2 separate regions of the Homo sapiens genome follow, and region 2 is linked to region 1. Evidence: fine-mapped expression QTL. A gene starts in region 1. The other region holds a variant in brackets. All regions are shown on one strand. Distances are from middle to middle. Region 1 holds the start of TSHZ2 (teashirt zinc finger homeobox 2). Region 2 overlaps LOC105372666 (a long non-coding RNA gene).

Region 1 (5,384 bases):
CTACATTGAACAGGACAGCCCCTCCTAACAAAGAATTATCAGACCTTCAATGTCAATAGGGCCTGGGTTAGAAAATCTTGCTCTAGGGCAAGGACCAGGTACGTGCATCTTAACAAGGGCCTCAGGAGATTTTAATGCGGAAGCAGAAGCCTTACACGGTGTCTTTTTGATACAAGGGCTTCAGTATCAGAGTTCCCTTTTTGCCTACCCGTTTGTTATATGTAAGACTCAGCTTTGACTTACCTCTTCCCTTGAAGCCCCGCCTGGTAACCATCCTTCCTTTCGCCAAGTTCAGGGTAATCACTCCTCCTAAGAACACCTTCACCACATACTTATAACCAACTGATCTTTGGCAAAGCATATAAAAACATAAGTTGGGAAAAGGTCTATTCCAGTGTTCTCCAGCCTTTTTTTCACCAGGGACTGGTTTCATGGAAGACAATTTTTCCATGGACCAGGGCAGGGTGGATGGTTTTGGGATAAAACTGTTTGACCTCAGATCATTAGGCATTAGATTCTCATAAGGAGTGTGCAACCTAGATCCCTTGCATTCACAGTTTACAATAGAGTTAGAGCTCCCATGAGAGTCTAATGCCCCTGCTGAAGTGACAGAGCTCAAATGGTAATGCTTGCTTACCCCTACCTGCTCACCTCCTTCTGTGCCACCTAGTTCCTTACAGGCCATGGACAGGTGCTAGTCCATGGTTCAGGGGTTCGGGACCCCTGCCCTATTCAATAAATGGTGCTGGGAAAATTGGATAGCCACATGTAGAAGAATGAAACTATCCCTGTCTCTGACCATATATAAAAATTAACTCAAGATGGATTAAAGACTTTAAACATAAGACCTGACACCATAAATATTCTAGAAGAAAACCTAAGAAAAACTCTTCTGGACATTGGCTTAGGCAAAGAATTTCTGACTAAGCCCTCAAAAGCAAATGCAACAAAAATAAATAAATAAATGGAGCCTAATTAAACTAAAAAAATTCTACCCAGTAAAAGAAACAATCATCAGAGCAAACAGACAACCTACAGAATGGGTGAAAATATTTGCAAACTATGCATCTGACAAAGGACTAATATCCAGAATCTACAAGGAACTCAAACAAATCAGCAAGAAAAAAAAAAAAATAATCTCATTAAAAAGTGGACAAATGACGTGAATAGACATTTCTCAAAAGGAGACAGACAAATGGCCAACAAACATAATGAAAAAATGCTGAACATCAATAATCACAGGGTAAATGCAAATTAAAACTGCAGTGAGATAGCACCTTACCCTAGCCAGAATGGCCATTATTAAAAAGTCAAAAAACAACAGATATTGGTGTGGATGTGGGGAAAAGGGAACTTTTATACCCACTGCTGGTGTGAATGTAAATTAGTACAATCTCTATGGAGAACAGTATGGAGATTTCTCAAGGAATTAAAAGTAGATCTACCATTTGATCCAGCAACCCCACTACTGGGTATCTACCCAAAGGAAAAAAAGTCATTATGTCAAAAAGACACCTGCAGGCGTATATTCATTGCAGCACAATTGCAAAGATATGAAATCAACATAAGTGCCCATCAACTGATTATTGTATAAAGAAAATGTGGTATATATATCTATATATGTGTATTTGTGTATATATATGTGTGTTTGTGTGTATATACACACATATATATACACCGTGGAATACTACTCAGCCATAGTAAAGAACAAAATAATGTCTTTCACAGCAACTTGGATAGAGCTGGAGGCCGTTATTCTAGGTGAAGTAACTCAGGATCAAAAACCAAATACCACACGTTCTTGGTTATAAGTGGGAGCTAATGCATGGGTATGCAAAGGCATATGGAAAGATATCATGGACATTGGCAACTCAGAAGCGAGGAGTATGGGAAGGGGGTGAGGACTGAAAAACTACCTATTGGGTACGATGTACACTACTCGGGTGACGGGTGCACTGAAATCCCAGACTTCACCACTATGCAATTCATCCATGTAACCGAAAACCACTTTTACCCCTAAAGCTATTGAAATAAAAAAAATAATAAAGCAAAAAAAAACACCTCTAGTCCCAGCCTGCATCAAATGCCCTCAGTTGCTTTGCCCTCTCACTGGAAGGAGCACTCCTTGAGGGCATGGTCTAGGTTCACCTTGTTCACAGACTTGCCCCCAACACCTCAAAAGGTGCCTGGCCGATAGCAGAACTCAATAATCACATGTTTGTTTCAATCTCTCTGTGCTCAAATGCCATATCCTACATTGAATCTAGAGCCACCCACCCCCTTTTAGACACTATTACAGCACTCAGCTTAACGTCTTCATGGAGCGAATCACTCAAAGTATCCTGTTTATTTGCTTGCTTACTTTTCATTCATTCAACAAATATTTTACTGGGCACTTATTATATGTCTTGTGCTTTGCCAGCACTTGGGGATATAAGAGAACAAAGAGGCAAAAATCCTTCCTTCCATTGGAGCTTACATTCAAGAGGGGAACTTGTACAATCAACAGAATAGAAAACTGTCTATAACCTGTGTGACACTCACTGATCAGCTCACTGGGGAATAACAAAATGGAGAAATGGGGCAGGGAGTGTGTGTGTGTGTGTGTGTGTGTATTTTAGGTGAGGTAGACCTTTGGGAAAAGGGGACATTTAAGCAAAGATTGGATAGCTGGGGGGCACTTGTCTGCACTCCCCCATTAGAATATAAATACCAACATGGCCACCACCTTCCCTTTCTCTGTGGCCTCTGTGTCTCCAGAATAGGCACATAGTAGATGCTCAATAAACATTCTTCAAAGGAAACAAAAAGAGGAGTATATGATTAGACCTTAAAGTAGACAGAAGGGAGATTTTTGTTTTTGTGACCACCCATTGATTAGCGAGAAAGTGGGAGGGACAGGGGCACTAAATTGAAGGGGTCGTGGGGAGCACATTTTGGTGGGGGCAGGTTAAGACTTACAGGATGGAGATCCTCACTGGATAAGGTCCCCTCCCCCTTCCCAGCCCCGAGCAAACCTAAGTTCTCCCTCTCCTAAGATTGTGCATGGTCCCTGCTGGTCAGCCAACCTGGCCCCCCTGAATCTCCCTCCACAGCCTCCCAGCTTCAGAGTTCAGCCATCATCACACTGCCTCCTTTTCTCCCGCACCCCTTCCCTCCTCACCTCCTTTCCTCCCGCCCCCGCCCCTTCCGCCTCCCGGAGGGGTGTCCCCGCGCCCGGTGGGCACGCCCTCGCCCCGGCGGAGAGGGCGCACAGAGGGGCCTGGGCCGGCGCGCCGGGGCCCCCGCCCCCAGCCCCTCTCCCCTGCGGGACGCTGTCCCTTTAATAGGCTCCCGCTGCCTGGCGCTCTGCGGCTGGGGAGTAAATTTCTCCCTGTCATCAGGTCGCGGGGAGAGGAGGAGGAGGAGGAGTTTGTTAATGTTCAGTTTGTTCAGCGGGATCGATGTTTGCTGGCATCGCCTCGCCCTGTCTTGTGTGTGTGTGCGAGGGTGTGTGTGTGTGTTTGTGTGTGTGTGCATATGTGGGGGGTGTGAGTGTGTGTGTGCGAGGAAGCGGGGGTGCGTGCGCGTGTGAGTGCGTGTGTGAGTGTCTGTGTGTGTGTCTGTGTGTGTGTGTGAGTGAGTGAATTCCAGATTTTCTGTCTTTCCAAAACCCGCTCCTGTCCTCTCGCATATCACTCACAGACGGGGATCTGACAGCAGCCACAAACCTACAGTGAGTGATCGCTCTCCCCCCGGCACGAATCCGCCATAGAGATCGGCGAGGAGGAGGAGGAGGAGGAGGAAGAAAAGAAGGAGGAGGTGGAGGAGGAGGTGGAGGAGGAGGAGGAGGAGGGAAAGAGGAGAAGGAAGAAGAAGAAAAAGAAGAAACCCACTACCTTCCCAGGATTGCCTTTTTTTTTTCCTTATCTTTACGCGCGAGTGTGCCTGTGGCGCGTGTGCGCCCCTCGTCCCTTCCATCCGAACCCGGGCTTGGATGTTTAATAAAGAAATCAAGTGTCTCAACAGTCACCAAAAAAAAAAAAAACCGCAAAAACAAAACCAAAAAAATTCCAAAAGCAAAAACAAAAAAGAGAGAGGAAAAAAAATTCAAAATAAACAAACAAACAAACAAGGCAGAACCAACCTCTACTTCAAAGCAGCCGGCACAAGCCACCCGTGTCTGCCACCCAGAGAGGGGGGTCTCTGGCCCGTGGTGGAGGAGTTGCAGGGGGGATCGTCAGGGGGACAGAGGCCGAGTGACGTCCTAGGAGCCACCGGGCAAGAGGCGGAGGAGACCCAGAGAGGCCAGAGAGACAGCGGGCCCCAGCGCGCGGCTCGGGGCTGGGGCGCCAGAAGTGGGACTGGAGCGAAGTAGAGGATGCCGAGGAGAAAACAGCAGGCACCCAAGCGGGCGGCAGGTAAGAGAAACGGCTCCGCTTCGGGGCTGCCCTGTGCGCCGAGCTCCTCGCCCGCCCTCCTTGCCCCTGGGTGCCCGGGGGCACCACCCACTTAAGCTTTCGGGGGAGTTTGCGCCGGGTGCCCTTCTAATAACCCCGTCCTCTCTCGCCTTCTCTGGTCTCCCAAATCCTCCCCTTCCAAGCTCCGGTTGGGTTGGGGTGAGCTATCCCACCAAGCCTTTCCTCCTTAAACTTTCTTTCCTCCACCCTCTACCCCACCCCTAACTTTCTTCCAGTCTGTTTCTTGCCTCTCGGGCCAAAGTCGGATTGAGGATTTGGGGTGCGGAGTAGGGAGACAGCCCCTCCACCCCTGCATCCCTCTGCGTGGTCAGTGCCAGTGGCTTTTGGCCTCCAGGGATAGCGTCTCCTCTCACTGGGGCTTGGGGCGCTGAAGTGTGAGGCATACCTAACACTCGGGCTGCAGGCAGGCTTTGGGGCCAGCAATAGGAGTTTAGCGTTGATCACCAAGGTGGACAAAATGCCCCCAGGAAATGGATGACTCTTTGCATATATTTTCTAAAAGGATCCATATTTGGAAATGTAATTAACAATTTCCCTATTCTTTAAAAAAACCAAAAAGGGTTGTAGGGGGGAAATTCCCCATAGAAATTTAAACAGCTCTGGATTTTCTTTGCCTAGAGAGTTGCAAACTTTGTGAAATGATTCGTACTGTAAAAACTATCCCATCTGAATCCTTACTGCCCCCTAAAAAAGATAAGAACAGGTTAATGGATCAGTACAATAGACCTTCTAAAGTTTTTTTTTCTTTTGGGTTGCTTAATTGCTTTTTTAATAGTATGCTGGGGTTTTGTTTCTCGGAAATGTAATATGAAAGTTCATTTTTCTTCTGCCAGACCCACCCACTGAAAAATCAGCTTTCCACTTGATTGCTAGTTTTGATTTGACATTTGATTGATCACCTGTCATCTCGCTGCCTTTGATCTA
Region 2 (5,384 bases), 520 kb before region 1:
AAAAGTTTAAATCCTTTGCGCAATAGCAGTGAGATTGAAGTGACATACTGTTTTAACTTTTTGAAAAACAGCAATGCTCAAATAATCAGCAGGAGAGGGAATATTAGACAAGTAAATATGGAATATTATGCTCACAAGCAATAACTGTGTCTATTAAATATGCAAACCATGCAGCCTCATATGGATTTTTTTCATTACATCATTTTATAGGTATATGTGTGTATAAGACTGGGTATATAGTAAACTTTTATGAGTTAAATCATTTTTTCCATTAGCTTTTGTTGTAATTACCAAGATGCTTACTGTAATTTCTGATTGATCTTCAATTGGCACTACCCCATAACACTTTATCTTGAAAATTCTCTGCCTGTAGGCCTCTTAGTTAGGTAGTGAACGATTTATCTATACACCTTCAACATAATCAAGAGGTCAATATGTAAAGGGACCCATTTGTAAATGAAATAAAGCAAATAATATGGTGGTTATTTTTGTATTTAGATAGATTAGCAACATTGATTCTAATGAGAGGGACCTTCCTTTCTTTATAGCAATTGTACCATGCAGTGTTAGTTATGTGCTGATTTCTCAGTTTATTTCATGACTACCTTCCCACTAGAATGTAATTTCTCTGAGGACAGGAATCATGCCTTTGTTTTCTGTCTTTAAAAAAATTGTTTTAAAGTGCGGCAAAATATCCAGAACATAAAATGTACCACTTTAATACTTTTTGAGTGTATGCTTCAGTGGCATTAAGTATATTCACGTTTTTATGCTGTTATCATCACTATATCTTCAGACTTTTCATCTTCCCAAATGAAAACTCCATAATCACTAAACAGTAATTTTGCCTTCCCCTCCCCCCCCACTGGCTGACAACCATCATTCAATTCTCTGTCTCTCCAAATTTGACTATGCTAGATGTCTTGTATAGGTGGAATCATACACTATTTGTCTTTCAGTGTCTGGCTTATTTCACTTAGCATAATCTCCTCAAGATTCATCCATGCTGTAGCATGTGTCAAAAACCTGCCTTTATTTTTATTTTTTTAATATTTATTTATTTATTTTTGAAATAGAATCTCATGCTGTCGCCCAGGCCAGAGTGCAATGGCACAATCTTGGCTCACTGCAACCTCTGCCTCCCAGAGTTAAGCGATTCTTTTGCCTTAGCCACCCGAATAGCTGGGATTACAGGCATGCACCACCATGCCCAGCTAATTTTTGTATTTTTAGTACAGACGAGGTTTCAACATGTTGGCCAGGCTGGTCTCGAACTTCTGACCTCAGATGATCCACCCGCCTCGGCCTCCCAAAGTGCTGGGATTGCAGGCATGAACCACTGTGCCTGGCCACATGACTTTATTTTTTATAACCATGTGCCTGGTGTCTAGCTTAGCACTTGGATGTAGTAGGAATTAGGAGACCACAATATATCTTTGTTGAAGGAATACATGAAAGAATGACTCAGTCAGCCACATTGTATTCCCCTTCGTAGCCTTGGGATCAGGATGCAGTAGGTCCTCTGTAATTCTTTGGGGAAGAAAAGAATTATTTGGCTTCCTGATTTCTGAAGCAGAGCCCAGGGGGCAGTTGAGATACTTTTGGAACATGAAAAACTCGCCATTTCCCCTTGCCCGTGATGTTTGAATCCAGTGTATGAAAAGGAAATCTGTGGCATCTTTTCTCGAGCTTGTAATTTGGGTTGCTTTGTGTTCACTGCTAATTAACCAGTTGGTGATGTGCTGTTTGTCTTTTCGTCTGCCTCTGAGCTTGTAAGGAGTCAGTGACAAGCCCAGTGAAACTGAGGGGCACTCAGATAATTAAGGTTTGGAGGGCTTCTTACCAACCCATTGATGAACCAATTGCTTCCTCTGCCTCAATTGATGGGTAGCTGACACATGACGTTAACAGTGGCTTTCTCTCATATACACAGCAGCAGGAGACTTTCCCACCTTTTAATGGCTGAGCAAACTTCATCCCAGGCAACCCTGGCAAAATGAAAGTGTATTGTCAAAGTTACTTGTGAAGATGACTGTGTTTAGACTAGAAGAAAAGTCTTGATACATCAGAATTGCCACACACGCGTGCTCACACAGTCTTTATTATTAACATCTAAATGCAAAAAGTAATACAAAGCTTTATTTAAACATTTAAATGTATAAGGAGAAATGACTTTGTGTTCTATATTGTTCTTTTGTGTGTGTGTATGCCTGTTTTTATCCTTTAAGAAACAACAGTGATAGAGTATTGAGTAGTTTCTTTTCTTTTTTTCTTTTTTGAGACAAGGCCTTGCTAACCCTGGCTGGTTTGCATTGGCGTGATCACTACTCATTGCAGTCTCAACCTCTCAGGCTCAAGTGATCCTCTTGCCTTAGCCTCTCAAGTAGCTAGGACTACAGGTGTGCACCACCACACC[C/A]AGCTAAGTTTTTATTTTTTGTAGCAATGGGGTCTGGCTATGTTTCCCAGGCTGGTCTCAAACTCCTGGACTCAAGCAATCCACCAGTCAAGCCTCTTGGAGCGTTGGAGTTATAGGCTTGAGCCACCTTGCCCAGTTGAGAAGTTTCTCTAAATCTGATAACCTCCTCCTGTATAGAGTCTGTGTCTGTTATGCAAAAACATCAAATAATTGAATGTCATGTGTGGGCGGCTCTACACCTCCTTACCTGTGCTTATCTTCTGCTTCTTTGCCTCTTTTTAATCCAGCGTAGTTTGGAACCAGCAGCAGCAGCAGCTCCCCAGACCTACTGAATCAGAATCTACATTTTGATAAGAGCCCAGGGTGACTCCATGTACGTGAAAAAGTTTGAGAAGTCCTTAGACCTACAGTTCACAGCTTCTCCTTCTTTCTTATTCAACTGAATTGCAGTGGGACCTGAGTATGGTTAAAATAAATGAATAAAAACACAAATCAATTCTTGGGTGAGTCTCATGAACAATCAAGATTAAGAACCACTGACCTTACTCCAGTAAATGCCTTGAGAACCCTGAGGGCAGGGACGCTGTCTACTGTGTTCTTTCCTAGGAAGGTGCTTGGAATATAGTAAAAAAAAAAATTATTTATTGAATGTATTATTATACAAAACCCAAGGCTCAGATGACCTTGGGGCAGTGTCTTTTTCCATGTTCAGACCCTGAAGGAGATCAACCTGCCTGTCTGCTGACCCTGCTCCCGTAGCTGGGCAACAAGTTCTTTGAAGGTAGATCTAGGTGGCCCATCTTGGTGTCCACCACAAGTGGTTAACAGTCAAATAGAATCATGTTTTAGGAGGCAGGCTCTAGAATTTGACTGCCTACCTTTCATTTCTGGACCTGCCACTCCCTGGCTGAGTGACTTTGGCCAGTTATTTATCTTCTTCCTGGGTGATATGGTTTGGCTCTGTGTCCCCACCCAAATTTCATCTCCAATTGTAATCCCCATGTGTGGAGTGGGGGGACCTGTAATCCCCACGTGTTGAGGGAGGGAGGTGATTAGATCACGGGGAGGTTCCCCCATGCTGTTCTTGTGATAGTGAGTGAGTTCTCATGAGATCTGATGGGTTTATGAGGCAGTTTTCCCTGCTCTTGCTCACTCTCTCTCTTGCCTGCTGCCATGTAAGATGCGCCTGCTTCTCTTTCTGCCTTGATTGTAAGTTCCCTGAGGCCTCCCCAGCCCTGTGGAACTGTGAGTCAATTAAACCTCTTTCCTTTATACATTACTCAGTCTTGGGTATATCTTTACAGCAGTGTGAAAACGGACTAATACACTGGGTCAGTCTCCTTATCCATAACATACTATCAATTATACCCACCTGATAAAGTGATTTGAGACTATAGTGAGAAAAATAGATTTAAGGCACATATTGGGCACTTAATTAAGGTTAGTTGTTATCGTTCCTATTATAATGATATTTTACATAATATATAATTAAAAGTTTATAATATTAAATCATGTTATAAAAATAGATTCTTCTTTTGCTTGTGTGAAGAAACAAACTGGGATGATAAAATGTTAGAGAAAGGGCAGTTTTATCCATACTAAAGATAATAGAGATATTATTTTCCTCTTCTGTGTGTGAGAACCATCTTTGTCTCCTTACACACTAGACAGGATACATTTGTTTGTGGTCTGTGTGCATTTTTCCTTCTTGTCAGAGCAGCAAGAACTTTGATTCTTGCCTTTAAATGGGATCTTTCGGGAGATGATATGATGATAAGATTTGTAATTTGCCCCGTCTCTATCCTTGCGGGATCTTGGGTTCTGCTCCAGCTACGTCAGCTCCGTTTAACTCAATGATCTGGTGACATCTTTCAGATCTCAGAAGGGCTCAACAAATGCCACCACGGAGTTCAGTAGTGAAGACACAATGCCAAGATTAAGCAAGGTTGGGTTACATTTGTAAATGTAAAGGCTCAAAGCTTTGTTTGAACAAATCAGTGCAATAGATCTTAGGTAGAACAGAGTTCTAGCAGAACTGTGAAGTTTCTAAAAAAAAAAACAACAGAAAACCCACACCAGTGAGTGTTAAAGTCTCATAGGAATAATTCCATTGTGGCTAAGTGCGGTGGCTCACACCTGTAATCCCAACACTTTGGGAGGCTGAGGTGGATGAATCATTTGAGGTCAGGAGTTCAAGACCAGCCTGGCCAACATGGTGAAACCCTGTCTCTTCTAAAAATATAAAAATTAGCTGGGTGTGGTGGTGCATGCCTGTAATCCCAGCTACTCGGGAGGCTGAGGCAGGAGAATTGCTTGAACCTGGGAGTCGGAGGTTGCAGTGAGCTGAGATCGCACCACTGCACTCCAGCCTGGGGACAGAGCGAGATTCTGCCTCAAAAAACAAACAAACAAAAAAACTAAAACAAACAAACAACAACAAAAAACCCCAATTCCATTGTGTGGTGATGATAATCATCATCATTGGCTCTTTTTTCCCATCTCCCTTGTGATAATAAAGCTCAAACTCTGTATAAGCTAGGATTATGGTATGCTGTGCACAAACCCCCAAAACGGTGACTTAAAAACAATATAATTTTATTTTAGTCTCACAGAAATAAAGGTCCAACTGATTTGGCAGCTCTGCTCTGAAACTCTGTTAGGAATCCTGGATGCTGCTATCTCATTTCTTTCTATCCCTATGATGTTGCCTTTGCCTTCATGACCCGGGATTGCTGCCATTGTGGTTTGCATTCCAGCCAGCGGGAAGGGAGAAAGAGGTCAGAACTCTCTTCCTTTTAAGGGCAAAATATACAAGTTGTACATGATCACTTTTATTCACACATCTTTTAGTCATGCAGTCCCACCCAACTGCAAGCAAGACTGGGAAATCTGGATTTTTTGTGGCCATGTGTTCTGCTAGAAACTCAATTACTCTATACTCTCTCAGAATAGGTGTTTGATACAGAGC

Evidence for each region. PIP is the estimated chance that this variant, and not a neighbour inherited with it, causes the effect.
Region 2: its variant is fine-mapped to the expression of TSHZ2 in whole blood (TOPMed, PIP above 0.99).

The regions. Positions count from the first base shown.
Region 1 is chr20:52,968,934-52,974,317 of GRCh38, forward strand. It overlaps TSHZ2 (teashirt zinc finger homeobox 2), which reads left to right and starts at 3,425. Exons shown (of 3, transcript NM_173485.6): 1 at 3,425-4,400. The coding sequence starts at 4,361.
Region 2 is chr20:52,449,656-52,455,039 of GRCh38, forward strand. All of the region lies in intron 4 of LOC105372666 (a long non-coding RNA gene), which reads left to right. Among named protein-coding and RNA genes, the nearest start is that of LINC01524, 170 kb to the right of the region's middle. The variant C/A (reference allele first, on the strand shown) is at 2,417.